Linked DNA regions of Homo sapiens: region 1 is linked to region 2. A link means that fine-mapping ties the variant in region 2 to the expression of a gene that starts in the linked region. Tissue or cell type: whole blood. Region 2 holds a variant in brackets; the other region holds the start of a gene. All regions are shown on one strand. Distances are between the middles of the regions.

The links. PIP is the estimated chance that this variant, and not a neighbour inherited with it, causes the effect.
Region 1: CCDC77 starts here. The variant in region 2 is fine-mapped to the expression of CCDC77 in whole blood (TOPMed, PIP above 0.99).

What each region holds. Positions count from the first base shown.
Region 1 is chr12:397,220-405,402 of GRCh38, forward strand. It overlaps CCDC77 (coiled-coil domain containing 77), which reads left to right and starts at 4,425. Exons shown (of 13, transcript NM_032358.4): 1 at 4,425-4,465. LOC105369594 (a long non-coding RNA gene) reads right to left here and starts at 4,191. Exons shown (of 4, transcript XR_007063149.1): 1 at 4,099-4,191; 2 at 3,674-3,831. RefSeq lists enhancers at 3,949-4,268, 4,683-5,235.
Region 2 is chr12:436,738-444,920 of GRCh38, forward strand. It overlaps CCDC77 (coiled-coil domain containing 77), which reads left to right. Exons shown (of 13, transcript NM_032358.4): 10 at 1,598-1,817; 11 at 3,880-4,005; 12 at 4,107-4,259; 13 at 5,037-5,905. The coding sequence ends at 5,183. Among named protein-coding and RNA genes, the nearest start is that of B4GALNT3, 19 kb to the right of the region's middle. The variant A/G (reference allele first, on the strand shown) is at 3,890.

The sequences.
Region 1 (8,183 bases), 40 kb before region 2:
AACACCCAGTTAGAAGCCTATGGTAATAGACCAAGTGAAAGGTAATAAGACACATAGTGGAAATAAATAGGAAGATATATATGAAGACAGGCTCACCATGACTTGATTTTTTAAAAATTGCAGGGGCTAAAAGAAAGGAAATAGACAAAAGATACCGAGCCGAGATGTTTGGGAAGATATTAATGTAATTAACAGAGAAAATCACAAGGGAGAAAAAAGCAGGTTTGGGAGTACAGGCATAACTTGGAGATATTGCAGGTTCAGTTCCAGACCACCATAATAAAGTGAATATCACCATAAAGCAAATTGCTCGAAATTTTCGGTTTCCTGGTACATAAAAAAAGCTATGTGTTTACACGATACTGTAGTCTAGTGCATTATTTCTAGTTTGCATTATTTCTTTAAAAAAATTTACATGCCTTAATTTAAAATGCTTTTTTTTTTTGAGACAGAGTCTTGCTCTGTCACCCAGGCTGGAGTGCAGTGGCGCGATCTCAGCTCACTGCAGCCTCTGCCTCCTGGGTTCAAGTGATTCTCCTGCCTCAGCCTCCCGAGCAGCTGGGACTACAGGCGCCCGCCACCACGCCCGGCTAATTTTTTGTATTTTTAGTAGAGATGGGGTTTCACTGTCTTAGCCAGGATGGTCTCCATCTCCTGACCTCGTGATCCGCCCGTCTCAGCCTCCTGCAGTGCTGGGATTACAGGCGTGAGCCACCGCGACTGGCCTTAAAATACTTTATTCTAAAAATGCTAATGATCGTCTAAGCCAAGTCATAATATTTTCACTGATGGAGGGTCTAGCCTTGATGTTGGGGGCTGCTGACTGATCATGGTGCTGATTGCTAAAGGCTGGGGTGGCTGTGGCAATTTCTTAAAATAAGACAACAATGAAGTTGTTTTCATTCTTCCTTTCATGATATTGATTGATTCTTCCTTTCATGAAAGATTTCTCTGTAGCATGCAATGCTGTTTGATAGCATTTTACCCATAGTAGAACTTCTTTCAAAGTTGAAGTCAATCCTCAAACCCTGCAACTGCTTTATCGACTAAGTTTATGGAATATTCTAAACCCTTTGTTGTCATTTTGGCAATGTTCACAGCATCTTCACCAGGAGTAGATTCCAGCTAAAGAAACCACTTTCTTTACTTATTCATAAGAAGCAACTCTTCATCCATAGTTTCATCATGAGATTGCAGCAATTCAGTCACATCTTCAGGTTCCACTTTTTTTTTTTTTTGAGACAGAATCTTGCTCTGTTGCCCAGGCTGGACTGCAGTGGCGCGATCTGGGCTCACTGCAACCTCTGCCTCCCGGGTTCAAGCGATTCTCCTGCCTCAGCCTCCCAAGGCTCCACTTCTAATTCTAGTTCTCTTGCTACTTCCACAGCATCTGCAGTTATTTCGTCCATGAAGTCTTGAACCCCCTCAAAGACATCCAAGAGGATTGGAATTAACTTCTTCCAAACTCCTGTTATTATTGATATTGACCTCCTCCCATAAGTCACAAATGTTCTTTTTAAAATTTTTTTATTAAATATATTTTTACTTTTTTTTTTTTGAGACACAGTCTTGCTCTGTCACTCAGGCTGGACTGCAGTGGCACAATCTCGGCTCACTGCAACCTTGGTCTCCCAGGCTCAAGCAATCCTCCCACCTCAGCCTCCCAAGTAGCCAGGTGCATGCCACCACTCCTGGCTAGTTTTTGTATTTTTTTATAGAGACAAGGTTTTCTATGTTGCCCAGGCTTGTCATGCACTCCTGAGCTTAAGTGATCCACCCACGTTGGCCTTCCAAAGTGCTGGGTTTACAGGTGTGAGACATCTCACCAAGCCAAGTCACAAATGATCTTAAGGACATCTAGAATGGTGGTGAGTCCTTTCCAGAAGGTTTTCGATTTACTTTGCCCAGATCCACCAGAGAAATCACTATGTCTGGCAGCTATAGCCTTATGAAATATTTTTTTTTTTTTGAGGCGGAGTTTCACTCTTGTTGCCCAAGCTGGAGTGCAATGGCACGATCTCAGTTCACTGAAACCTCCGCCTCCCAGGTTCAAGTGATTCTCCTGCCTCAGCCTCCTGAGTAGCTGGGATTACAGGCATGCGCCATCATGGCCAGCTAATTTTGTATTTCTAGTAGAAACGGGGGTTTCTCCATGTTGGCCAGGCTGGTCTCGATCTCCTGACCTGGTGATCCGCCCACCTCAGCCTCCCAAAGTGCTGGGATTACAGATGTGAGCCACCGTGCCCGGCCTGAAATATATTTCTTAATAAGACCTGAAAGTCAAAATGACTCCTTGATCCATGAGCTGCAGAATGTCTGTTGTGTTTGCAAGCATGAAAGCAACATTCATCTGTTTGCATACCTCCACCAGAGCTCTTGGGTGACCAGTTGCATTGTGAGTGAGAAGTAATATTTTGAAAGAAATCCTTTTTTTCCTGAGCAGTAGGACTTAAAATAAAACATACATAAAACGGTGAACTTAAAATACTCAGTTAACCATGCTATAAACATATATGCTGTCATCCAGGTTTTGTTGTTCCATTTATAGAGCACAGGCAGACTATATCTAACATAATTCTTAAGGGCTCTAGGATTTCAGGGATGTAAATGGGCACTGGCTTCAACTTAAAGTCACCAGTTGCATTAGCCCCTAACATGAGAGTCAGTCTGTTCTTAGAAGCTGTGAAGCCAGGTATTGACTTCTCTCTAGCTACAAAAGTACTACTTGGCATCTCCTTCCAATAAAAGGCTGGTTCATATATATCAAAAGTCTGTAGTTTAGTTTAGCCACCTTAATCAATTACCTTAGTTAGCTCTTCTGAATAACTTGCTGCGGCATCTACATCAGCACTTGCTGCTTCCACCTTGCACTTTTAAGTAACGGAAATAGCTCCTTTCCTTAAACCTCACGAACCAGCCTCCGCTATCTTCCACCTTTTCTTCTGCAGCTTCCTCACCTGTCTCAGCCTTCATTTTATTGAAGAGTTAGGACTTTGCTCCAGATTAGGCTTTGGCTTCAGGGAATGCTGTGGCTGGTTTGATCTTCTATCCAGACCACTCAAACTTTCTCTATATCAGCAATGTCTGTTTCACTTTCTTATCATTTTTGTGTTTACTGGAGTAGCACTTTTAATTTCCTTCAAAAACTTTTCCTTTGCATGCACAACTTGGCTAACTTTGGTGCAAGAAGACTGGCTTTCATCCTGTCTTGGCTTTCAACATGCCTTTTTCACTGAGCTTAATCATTTTCAGCTTTTTATTTAAAGTAAGAGATGTGTGACTCTTCCTTTCACTTGAACCCCCACTGTAGGATTGTTAATTGGTCTAATTTCAATATTGTTGTATCACAGGAATAAGGAGGCAAGAAGAGAGGGAGAAAGGCAGGGAGACTGCTGGTCTGTGGAGCAGTTAAAACATCCACAACATTTATGAATTAAGTTTGCCATCTTATATGGGCATGGTTCATGGTGCCCCTAAACAATTATAATAGTAATATAAAGGATAACAGATCAGCATAACATATACAATAATTATGAAAAAGTTTGAAATATTGTGAAAATTACCAAATGTGGTGCAGAGACACATAGTAAGCCTGTGCTGTAGGAAAAATGGCGCAGATAGATTTGGTTCCATGCAGAGTTGCCACAAACCTTACATTTGTAAAAACAGTTACCTGGGAAGCGCAATAAAGGAAAGTGCGAGCCTGTAGCAGATGCACGTTCCATTTAGACATCCTTAGGACTCACACCAGCGAAGGGCCCCAGCTTTTCCATACCAGTAGCTGTAATTCTGAGACGAAAGTGCTTTTCCCCCACCTTTACACCTTGCTTTCTGGAAAGATAAGACCATAATGGATTTTGAACTTGCTTTTATCATTAAAGCCCAGTGTCTTACATTTCTCCGGAAAAGGAAGCAGTGTTTGCTATGGAACAAATAGTAGAATTTTAATACATAGTCCCCTGACCGTAGAAACTGAACCTCAGGTCCTATCCTGGCTCTAGGCCACCCGGTCATGGAAGAAGAAACTTTTCTTAGAATCTTTATCTCTTGAGACAAGCTTGGAAATTACAACATATATGTACCATGAACGCGAAGTACCTGAGCTCAAAGCAGTTGAGCAATCTTAAGTGGGGGTGCCCGAAAGTGGTGCGTTCTGACCCCAAACGTCACACTACCCGTCCCTGGAGGAGCGGGTTGCAGCCCAGCTGCGTCGCCCCGCGCAGAGCTCCAGGCAGAAGAAAACTACATTTCCCAGAGACCTCTGCGCGGTCGGGAGCACCGCGAGGAGGGGCGAGATGGGGGCGGGCCTCTGTGTGAAGGCCCTTCCCATTGGTGCGCATTCCAAAGGGCCATGTAAACTTCTTCGCGATTGCACGGATTCAGGGACGCTCAGTGGCGCCGCGCCGCTCCTTGGTTTGACTTTTGTTTTTCAGTTGCGTTCCCTGACTCGGAGTCTTAGTGTGTCGTGAGTATAGAGTTTCGGGTTTGGGGTGAAGGGGTTAGGTAAGAAGCCTTGGGAAGAAAATCTGGTTAGGGAGAAGTAACTGCGGAAGCAGTGCGGAGGAGAGGACGTGAGCCTGAATGTGGTGTCCGTGGAGGGGCTGGGGACCGGAGGAGGAAAGCTCCAATGTGCAAAGGGAGAGACCTCAGGAGTGCTGGAGCGTTGGGACCTGGAGCAGTGAGGCGGTCGAGAATGGGATGAAGTGGGAAAAGGAGTACGGGATTCGGGCGCCCTGGAGATGCGTTCCGGTGTACTCTAACCCCACGCTGGTCTAGCTCTCAGTTTCCTCATTTGTGAAATAAGGGATAGTGAAAATACTGAACGGTTGTTGGGATAATAAATTGTACAGATTTGTCACGTGGCTAAAAGAAAAAAATTCAAAGTGCTACACAAATGTTAATTGTTAGTAGACAAGCTATAAGAATATATCTAAGCAAGGGTATTGGAGATAGGTGCAGAGACCCTAGCTGAAACCCGTTAATTTACCTATAAACAAAGGCATTGTTCCTTTGGAAGAGGCAATGAAGAGTAAGACGCGATTTCTGTCTGTAGGGAGCGCACGCTAGCATGGGAGAAACGATAGCAATAAAGCACTCTAATATGTTGACTTGTAGATAATTTCAAAGGCAGTTCTTTTGCACTTAGATCATTTTTGCTAAATCATTTTGGATGGGGAGACTCAGGAAAGAGAAAAAGGAGGTGGTATTTAAGATGAGTTTTCATGTACAGACTAGATTTTGTTAAGTGAAATTATGAGGGTTGTGGAGGGAGTTGTGTTCCAGCTAGAGGGAAGCTCATGAACAAAGGTATGGAGGCAGGAAAGTTATCTGGAAACGGTACATTTAGGAGAGTAGAGAGAAATAAGGCAGGAAAGTTAGGTTTGGCCCTTATGTAGAAAGCCATGAATTCTAGGCTAACAAATTGGATTTAATGCTTTAGGCTATGAGGTGCTACTGATGTATTTTATTAAAGAAAATGGTCCAGGAGACGCAAGGAGTAGGTAGAACCGTTAAGGTGTTGTAATGGTGTGGGTAAGAAGTATTGAGACTCTGAATTAACATGGTCATTGTGGAGATAAAATATACAAGATATTCATATGGTTAGACAGGAGGTTCAGAAGAATGAGTGATCAAATGATGAATTTAAGTTGCCAACTCCCGGTTGCTTGGAAACGCTGAATTAGTAACTAAAATAGGAAAGTCAGAAGGGGCATGTTTGGATAAAAAGATGATGTGTTAGGTTTAGGAAATGTTAGCTTTGAGATGCTAAAAAAATACCTAACTTGAGTGATTTCTTTTTTAAGTTAAACGTTTCAAGTGCCAGTGGGACTATGGGTGAAAATGTCCACTACATTTTTGTTAATTCAAATCAAGAGGTTGAAAGAGATGTCGTTTATTTATTCAACATGTAATTGTTACTTACTGTATGCCATGTAGTGTTTTAGATGACAGAGTTAATAATAAAAACAGGAGGAATAATGATGTTCCCAAAGAAATGGTTAGAGGAAATGATAAAGAAACTTGAAGACAGAACCTCTGAGCCAAGGGAGTAAAATTGTCAATAATAATAATAGTCCACATTTACTGAGTGCTTATATATGTGTCAAACACTGTCCCTCGGCCTTATATCCGTACACCAACCTATGACATAGAAGTAACTGAAATTTAGAGAGGATAACTTGCCTGAGGTACACAGCTAATAAGAGGCAGGGCTTTGACTCAAACCCAAGTCTGATATCAGAGCCCACATTCTCAACTACAAAGCAATATTTATTTTTATTATTATTTTTTCCAGGTAAGGTCTCACTCTGTCACCTAGGCTGGAGAGCAGTGGGGCAATCTCAGCTCAGTGCAGCCTCTGCCTCCCAAGCTCAAGCAATCCTCTGCCTCAGCCTCCTGAATAGCTGGGACTACAGGCACGTGCCACCACTCCCAGCTAATTCTGTAATTTTTGTAGAGACAGGGTTTCACCATGTTGCCCAGGCTGGTCTCAAACTCCTGACCTCCAGCAGTCCATTCACCTTGGCCTCCCAAAGTGCTGGCATTACAGGCATGAGCCACTGTGCCCAGCCTATTTTAATTGTTTTTTGAGACAGGGTCTTGCGCTGTTGTCCAGGCTAGAGTGCAGTGGCACGATCACTGCTCGCTGCAGCCTTGAACCCTCAGGCTGAAGTGATCCTCGCACCAAGCAGGTGGGACTACATTGCCACTGTGCCCAGCTAATTTTTAAAATTTTGGTAAAGACAGGGTCTTGCCATGGCCTGGCCATGCCAAGGTCCGGTCCCAAAGTGATATATTTTTAAAGGGTAGTTGGCACTACCAGGCACAGTGGCTCACGCCTGTAATCCCAACACTGGCAGGCAGAGGTGGGTGGATCATCTGAGGTCAGGAGTTCGAGACCAGCCTGGCCAACATGGCGAAACCCTGTCTTTACTAAAAATACAAAAAAAATTAGCCACAGTGGCAGGTGCCTGTAATCCCAGCCACTGGGGAGGCTGAGGCAGGAGAATCACTTGAACCCAGGAGGTGGAGGTTGCAGTGAGCCAAGATCGTGCCACTGCACTCCAGCCTGGGCTGAACAGAGTGAGACTCTGTCTCAAAAAATAAATAAATAAATAGGTAGTTGGCACTATCTAATTAAGAATACAAGTGAAGGAGTAACTATTGGATGGAGGAGGATAGAAACAGAAAAGAGCAATTGAATTTATTAATTTGGATGTCTGCTGACCAATAAGAGCTTGGTTAGATGTCATAGTAGAAGCCCGAGGCCTGGCTCAGTGGCTCATGCCTGTAATCTCAGCACTTTGGAAGGCCAAGGGAGGAGGATTGTTTGAGTCCGGGAGTTCAAGGCCAGCCTGGGCAACATAGCAAGGCCCCGTCTTGCAGCCAGAGAGGTGAGTGTAGACAACTTTTCGTAGACATGTGCAACAGTGAGGACAGTCACTATGAAGGAGAAGAGGGATTGCAGGTTGTTAGAAGGGTCTTTCAAAGCTTCAAATTACTTTTTTTTTTTTTTTTTTGAGACGGAGTTTCGCTCTTGTTGCCCAGGCTGGAGTGTAATGGCGCGATCTTGGCTCACCACAACCTCCGCCTCCCAGGTTCAAGCAATTCTCCTGCCTCAGTCTCCTGAGTAGGTGGGATTATAGGGATGCACCACCATGCCCAGCTAACTTTGTATTTTTAGTAGAGATGGGGTTTCTCCAGGTTGGTCAGGCTGGTCTTGAATTCCTGACCTCAGGTGATCCGCCTTCCTCGGCCTCCCAAAGTGCTGGGATTACAGGCAGGAGCCACTGTGCCCAGCCGCTTCAAATTACTCTTAAATGGCTTTGAAACAGTGAAATTTAACTTTAAGTTGTCACCCATATCCGTACAATGGAATTTTATTCAGCCACAAAAAGGAATGAAGTACTGATACATGGTACCACATAGGTGAACCTTGAAAACATTATGCTAAGTGAAACAAGACAGTCACAAAAGACCATATACTATGTGATTCCATTTATAGGAAAGTCCAGAATAGGGAAATCTGTAGAGACAGTAGGTTAGTGGTTGCTTAGGACTGGGAGACAGGGATAATAGCTGAAGGACACAGGGTTTTTTTCTTGAAGTGACGAAACTTCTAGAATGGACTGTGCTGATAGGTACACGTATCTGTGAATATACTAAAAATCATTGAATTTACA
Region 2 (8,183 bases):
TCTGCATATCTGAGCACATGATCGGTTCCTTCCATTAGATGGATCTTCCTAAGAAGGGCATGAAATCCAGGGCCGTTAATGACTGCCCTTTGGGTATCACTTTCAAGCTACTTGTATTTTAACAAGCCTATAGTTTCCCAGTTTGAGATTGAGAAGATAATGTAAGACAGAATAAAATAACTCATTGAAAGTGAGAGAGACCCTTGTGGTAATTGAATCAATCTCTCTCTACATACACATGCACACATACCTGACTGTATATATTCACCTTGTGACATTTACTCTACTGTGTGCTTGGCACTCTGCTGTCATTTCCTCTTATCTGTGCACTCTGTTACTCATGAAAATAAGTGGATCTCACATTATTTGTTTGGTAGAAAAATACAGTGATTGCTTCATGGTATTTAATACTCTTGCAAGCAGCCAGATCATTCAGTATAGCATTTTTCTGGGTGGTAATGTTAAACTGATGAGTTGCTAACTTCCAGGGATATTGTTTTTTAAAGATAGAGACGTTGTCTATTCCTAAATTTCAGGAAATAGTCACCATGAATCTGTTAACTGCCTGTGTATGTCCAGTAGTTAGTATTATCCTTGACAATCTCATGGCATTGGGGCAAAAATAATAAATAAGGTATATGCTTTCACTCAGGCTGGGAAAAAGTGCATGTTGACAGTTAAAATATGACAGATGAGCAAGTGTTGAATTATAAGACAAGGGAACATTAACCTGGGATGGAGTTTCAGAGAATGGAGGAATTAAAATAGGCTAAAGTTGTTGGAAATGACTTCATACAGGAAGTTGATTTTTAAAAAAGTAGGCCAGGTGCAGTGGTTCACACTTGTAATCCCAGTATTTTGGGAGGCTGGGGCGAGAGGAGTGTATGAGCCCAGGAGTTCCAGACCAGACAAGCCTAAGGAACATAGCAAGACCCCATCTCCACACACACACAAATTTTTAATGAGCTGGCAAACACCCTGGGAGGTGGTCCCAGCTGCTTAGGAGGCTGAGACAGAAGGATTGCTTGAGCCCAGAAGGTCAGGGCTGCTGTGAGCTGTGATCGTGCCTCTGCACTCCAACCTACGTGACAGAGCAAGACCCTGTCTTAAAAAAAAAAAAAAAAAAAAGTTCTTTTTAAAATAAACAAAGGATAAGATTTTGATATAGGCAGTTCTACATGGAGCACAGCATACACAAAAGCAAAGCTGTTTTTGATACTATAGAATTTGTATTAACTTGTCAGAACACCGTGATTTAGTTCTTCCTTGTCTTATTCCTAGGAATGGTCCATAGTTAACGCAGGCTATGTGTAAATATCCCTGTAGTCCTTCTAATCATATAATCTGAAGTTCGCACTCAGGAAAGTACCTGTAAAGACCAGTCTATGAACCAGTGAGCATGGGTAGATACATTATACTTTACCCAGTAAAACATGTAAGATTGCCAGTGATCAGATTTTTAAACCTGCTAATATTTTACAAAATTTATATATCACACCATTTTAAAAGAACCACTCTCTTCCATTTTGGAATAATCCTTGCTTTCAGGTGTGCTGTGTGCGCATCCTCATGTCTGCATTTATACTTTCTTTCCTAGTCTTCACCACACCCAAGAACTGCTCTATGAGAGCACCAAAGATTTTCTGCAACTCAGATCTGAAAACCAAAATAAAGAGAAGTCATGGATGCTTGAAAAAGATAATTTGATGTCAAAGATTAAGCAATATAGGGTGCAGTGTAAGAAGAAAGAAGATAAAATTGGAAAAGTGTTGCCCGTTATGCATGAGAGTCACCATGCTCAAAGTGAATATATTAAGGTAATGTCCTTATGTCGTAACGAAGTTGTTTATTTTTCTGGGAGAGTTGAAGGAATTCCAAAGAACCTACAATTTGTAATGTAAGATCCATTCAGTCCAGGAAGCTCTGGTAGCAGCTGCCTCAAGAACTAGGTTTCAAAGAGCAGCTGATCGTTGTAGTATTTGGGGATTCAAAATATTAGACTTGTTGATTCATTCATTCATTCATTCAACAAATATTTATTGTACTCCTGGCCGGGCACAGTGGTTCACGCCTGTAATCCCAGCACTTTGGGAGGCCTAGGTGGGCAAATCGTGAGGTCAGGAGTTCAAGACCAGCCTGGCCAACATGGTGAAACCCCGTCTCTACTAAAAATACAAAAAAAAAAAAAAAATTAGCTGAGCATGATGGTGGGTGCCTGTAATCCCAGCTACTTGGGAGGCTGAGGCAGGAGAATTGCTTGAACCCGGGAGGCAGAAGTTGCAGTCAGCCGAGACTGTGCCACTGCACTCCAGCCCCGATGACAGTGCGAGACTGTGTCTCAAAACAAACACAAAAAAACATAAATATTTATTGCACTCGTACTATGGGTTAGGCCCTAGAGTTACAGTAATCTAAACAAGGTCTTCCCTCATGGTGTTTACATTTTAATGGGTGAGAAAAAACAGAAACATTAGCAAATAACTAAGAAAATTATAGATTAGGCCAGACGCGATGGCTCACACCTGTAATCCCAGCACTTTGGGAGGCCAAGGCGGGTGGATCACCTGAGGTCAGGAGTTCGAGACCAGCCTGACCAACATGGTGAAACCCCGTCTCTACTGAAAATATAAAAATTGGTGGGGCGTGGTGGTGGGCACCTGTAATCCCAGTTACTCGGGAGGCTGAGGCAGGAGAATCACCTGAACCCGGGAGGCAGAGGTTGCAGTGAGCTGAGATCATGCGATTGTACTCCAGCCTGGGCGACAGAGTGGGACTCCATCTCAAAAAAAAAAAAGGACTTTGGGAGGCAGAGGTGGGTGGATCACGAGGTCAGGAGTTCGAGAGCAGCCTTGCCAGCACAGCGGAACCCTGTCTCTACCAAAAATATAAAAAAATAGCCAGGCGTGGTGGCGGACACCTGTAATCCCAGCTACTTGAGAGGCTGAGGCAGGAGAATTGCTTGAACCTGGGAGGCAGAGGTTGCAGTGAGCCGAGATCGCGCCACTGCACTCCAGCCCAGTGACAGAGCAAGGACTCCGTCTCAGAAAAAAAAAAAGAAAAAATTATAGATTATAAAATGCGGTATTAAGGGAATAAAAGAATTACATGAAAATTATATGTAGTTGCTGGAAGTCCATTGTATTAATAGAAGGAATGCACAGGGACACTCTCTTATATCTAGTGTTTCTGCTGAGACCTGAAAAATGGGACTAAGCTTGCCATACAGACCTTGAGGAAGAACATTCCTGGCAGAGGGAAGAGCAAGTTTATAGGCCCTGGAGTATGTTCAAGGAAATGGAAGGCTGTCATCATGGTTGTAGAGGAATAAATAAGGAGGAAGTGGTATGCTCTTTAAGAAGCCAGCATTGGCAGCAGCCAGTTGTGGAGGGCCTTGTGCATCATCGTATGGAGTGTGAACTTAGCTCTCAATAGTGTTATGTATTTGAAGGGTTGTGTGAAATAAGTAACATGATCTGATTTGGGTTTTTAAAAGATCATTTTAACTGCTCAATAGGGCATGTATAATAAGCGTTGTTGTTAATATTTCTTCCTTTTTAAAGAAGAACTTTAGAAATGTAGCCCAAAACATATATTGTAATGTCTTCCTTGGGACAGCTTCTGAGCTCCGTTATCTGAGTCTTCCCAGAGCCAAAAATATTTGTTTTAATTTTTACTGTGTACACTTTAGAAAAAGGGCTTAAGAGACTGGTCTAGAAGTAGATTTTCAGATGTTCCTCAAAGTTCCTTGTCATCTGGTTCCTTAACTCATTTTGTACCTCTGGAAATCCCTTCTTTTCTTTCTTTCTTTGCCTAAAAGCTACTTGAATTACCTGAATTGTAGAACTGAGTGTTAATGTTTTTTGTCCCTTTGACTTGTAGTCCCTAAAAG[A/G]TAAGTTAGTACAAGAGAAAAAGCTGTCCAATATGTACCAAGAGCAGTGCATTTCCTTAGAAGAAGAACTTGCCCGAATTCGTGAGGAAGAGGGAATGAGGAGAGAGATCTTCAAGGTACGAAATTATCTGCCACTTGTAATGGAATAGGAAGTGCAGATGGCTGGGGAAGACGCTTCCCTCACCTTCGTAAATGCCTTCCCATTCCCCATATTTAGGATCGCACTAACAAGATGGGGAAGCGTTTACAGATAATGACAAAACGCTATGAGGCATTGGAGCGTCGACGTATCCTGGAAGTAGAAGGCTTTAAGACAGATATTAAAGTTCTCCGACAGAAACTGAAAGACTTGGAGCAAATGTTGTATAAGGTAATTGCTGGTCCTGAATTGCCACGAGGGAGAGAAGAGGTGTAAGTGAGGGAACATGGTCACGAGGGCCCCTGAAAAGAAGGATGTGCTGTTTCCCTGCTGGTAAACACTAACAGATCACCATCTTCAAGCCTCCCTGAAAATTAGTTCAAGAACATGCTAGAGGGAAAATAAAAAGACCCTGAAATCATTGAACGACTGCATCATTCATACTTCGATGTAAGCTAAACAGATTGTCATCCCTCCTAATTCAAGAAGTAGATTAAAGAATCGTGTCTGTCTTACAGTTGGGGAGGGTGAGTAATTGAGTGATAGAGTACTTTTTTCCAGCAGACACAGTTCTTTAGAATACAAGTCGCCTCAAGAGTCTTCTTAATGAGATTTAGCCAGTTAGCCTGTGTTCCAGACAAGGTTAGTTGCAGAAAAGAGGAGACGCCTGCTTTCATTCTGTGACAAACTTACCAGTAGTGTTGCGCTTTCATTCTGTGACAAACTTACCAGTAGTGTCGCTTATCCTGGCCTCTCTTACTCCTCTTTCATGGTGCATTGATCTCTACCTCAAGCCTCCTTTATTGCATGGGAAGGATTTTCATGAGATTTCTGCCTTAATTCTACATTTTCCTTCTTTAGTTAGCCACTGAACAAAGGATGGAATTTATCCTATGTACTCAAAATCTCACAAAAAGGAGCTAGCATAGCTGTGTCTTTTTGACTGATATCGCTCCCCTGGCATATGCCATCATCATTTCTTTTTTTTTTTTTTTTTCAAACCCCTAGGCAACAGTTAATGCCCGGGCAAACCAGGATCTTGCCCTTCTGTGTGAGGTCCGTGACAGCAATAGACGGGCACATAAGATACAAGGAGAACTGAAGAATCTTAAGTCGAAAGTGTTTGGTCTGGAGAATGAACTTAGACTCTGTTAATGTCTACTTTTGGAAATGGCCCCCATTTAGAAGAGGTGTGCTTCTTGAAACCTGAGGACAAGGTCATCTGCTGCCAGAAAATGTAAACCTGAGTTGACTAGAGTGGTGGTATTCATTATTGTAAAGACAGCTTGAAGAATCGGGGACCACTAGGAAAGCTTTTCTTGCATACTCAGCTTGCTTTATCATTTTTGCTGTCCTTTTAACACTTGCGAGGAGTAGGGGCCTGGTCCTGAATGACTTGGAGGCTTTCATTATTTATCCTGTCTGTATTGACCGGTTTTTGTTTTTTCAGAAGGCAGTGATGATGAAAACTTAGGAAGAAGGTATTTTGCAATAAGCTTGGCTGAGTGTCCATGGGAAGAATACTTTCCCTAAAGAGAGAGAAGCACTCACAGAGGCTGCCTTTCTCCTGAGCTCGGGGAGAAGGCAGCACATCACAACCTGTCACATTGAAATAGGCGCTCATTCTGCTATTTCACCTTCCGTCCTGAGCAGAGCCTGAATTACGTTTTTGGGCAATTTCATGGTGTTTCACCAGAGGGCGCTAGAGACTCAAACGAAATGTCCATCTGGAAAGATTCGGGAGACACTTTGCCGAGGGGATGAAGCTGAGATGATGCTTGTATGGAAAGTTTGATATTTTTATCAGTCACATGGCTTTTGAAAAATGATGTATATATTTTAAATTAACTATTTTCAATAAAATATTTCACTCAAAAGATTTTCTTTGAGTTTTCTGTAACTTCTTCTCAATACTATATTTATGCTTCGTTAATGACTCACGCAGCTCAGTTTACGTTCTTGTCCCATGGCCTCTGCAGTTTTGTGCAAGTGTACAAGGTTTTTTGGGGGGTTTTTGAGACAGTTTCACTCTCGTCACCCAGGCTGGAGTGCAGTGGCGTGATCTCGGTCCACTGCAGCCTCCGCCTCCCGGGTTGAAGTGATTCTCCTGCCTCAGCCTCCCAAGTAGCTGTAATTACAGGCGCTCACCACCATGCTCGGCTAATTTTTGTATTTATTTTATTTTATTTTATTTTAGTAGAGTCAGGGTTTCACCATGTTGGCCAGGCTGGTCTTGAACTCCTGACCTCAGGTGATCCACCCGCCTCGGCCTCCCAGAGTGCTGGGATAACAGGTGTGAGCCACCACACCCAGCCCACAAGTTTTTTTAAATTACTCCTTTGAAATCATCTAGTGTTGGAGATAACAAAGCTAGTACGAAGGGGATGACACTAAAACTTCATCCGTTTTTAGGCAAATTGCATTTGGGACAAAATAGTTGTTTCCATACCCAGAAAGCCTCTTGATAGTAAGTTGGTCTTTGCTTAAGATAGCATCATTCTGATTTACCCAGGACAAAGGAGAGAACCCAGGTTTTCATATTTAAAATGGTTAACAATGTGTAAAGGAAGGTGGTGATTGTACTGCACGCAGAAGCTGTTACCTTTCTTGAGAAAGTCTGTGATCAGCCAGGTATGGTGGCTCATGCCTGTAATCCCAGCACTTTGGTAGGCCGAGGTGGGTGGATCACGAGGTCACGAGATTGAGACCAGCTTGACCAACATGGTGAAACCCCATCTCTACTAGAAATAGAAAAATTAGCTGGGCGTGGTGGCACGCACCTGTAATCCCAGCTACTCGGGAGGCTGAGGCAGGAGAATTGCTTGAACCTGGGAAGCAGAGGTTGCAGTGAGCCGAGATCACGCCACTGCACTCCAGCCTGGTGATGGAGTGAGACTCCGTCTCAAAAAAAAAGAAAAAGCCTGTGATAGCAGATCAGTTTTTTTCATTGATCAGTTGGGACAAAAATTCTTAAGAGTGCCCTGCTCCCAGGCCTCAGAGAGATTTACAGAAGTGCATGATTCTTCCTTCTGTCCTAATACTTAGGGAATTGGCTTTTCCTGACTATTACTTTTGTTGTTGCTGGCAAAACAAAAAGGCTTATTAAATCAGAGAATTTTGGAGTAAGAAGCAACCTTAAATATCATATAATCCAACTTACTTACAAATGACTCTGAGACCTACTACCATTGACTTCAGCAATCAGTTGATAATGTTTCTAACATCCTGGTCTCAATTCCAATAACATTCATCTTTATATTAACCACCCACTGGTGTGGCCACTCTTCAAACCTCACAATTGGTTAAAACTCTGTCACCAAGAAGCAGCATAAAATAGTGGAAAGGGTACAGGCTTTGGAGAATCACAGATCTGGATTCAATCACACCTCTTACTAAAATTCTCCAGGCTCTAGTCTCTTCGCTTGTAAAAGAGACAAAAAGCTACCTGTTTCAGCAGAGTGACTGTGAGGATTAAGAAAGAGAAAATCTAGTATCCAGAGTATATAAAGAGCTCTTACAACTAAATTAAAAAAACACACACCCAATTCAAAAATGGGCCAGGGATCTGCATAGACATCTCTCCAAAAAAGTCGCACAAATGGCCAATAAGTACGTGGAAAGATGCTCAGCATCATTAAGGAAATGGAAACTAATGCGATACCGCTTCACGCTCACTAGGATGGCTGTCGTCAAAAAGTCAGCAACAACTGGATAAGGATGTGGAGAAACTAGAGGCCTCATAGATTGCTGACGAGAATGTCAAACGGTGCTTCCCCTTCAAAAAACAGTCTGGCAGTTCCTCGAAAAGTTTAGAGTTACCATATCACCCAGCAATTCCACTCCATAAGTATATACCCAAGATAAATAAAAATATACACCCCCACAAAATCTTCTGCATAGATGTTCATAGCAGTATTATTAATAATAGACCAAAAGTGGAAACCATCCAAATGTCCGTGAGCTGGTGAATGGATAGACAGGATACGGTATATCCATATGATGGAACATTAGCAGCCATGGAAAGGAATGATGTAGTGATACATGCTACTACAAGGGGGAACCTTGCAACGTTTTGCTAAGAAGGCAGAAACAGAAGGCCACATATTGTACGATTCCCATACACATGAAACGTCCAGAATAGGCAAATCCATATGG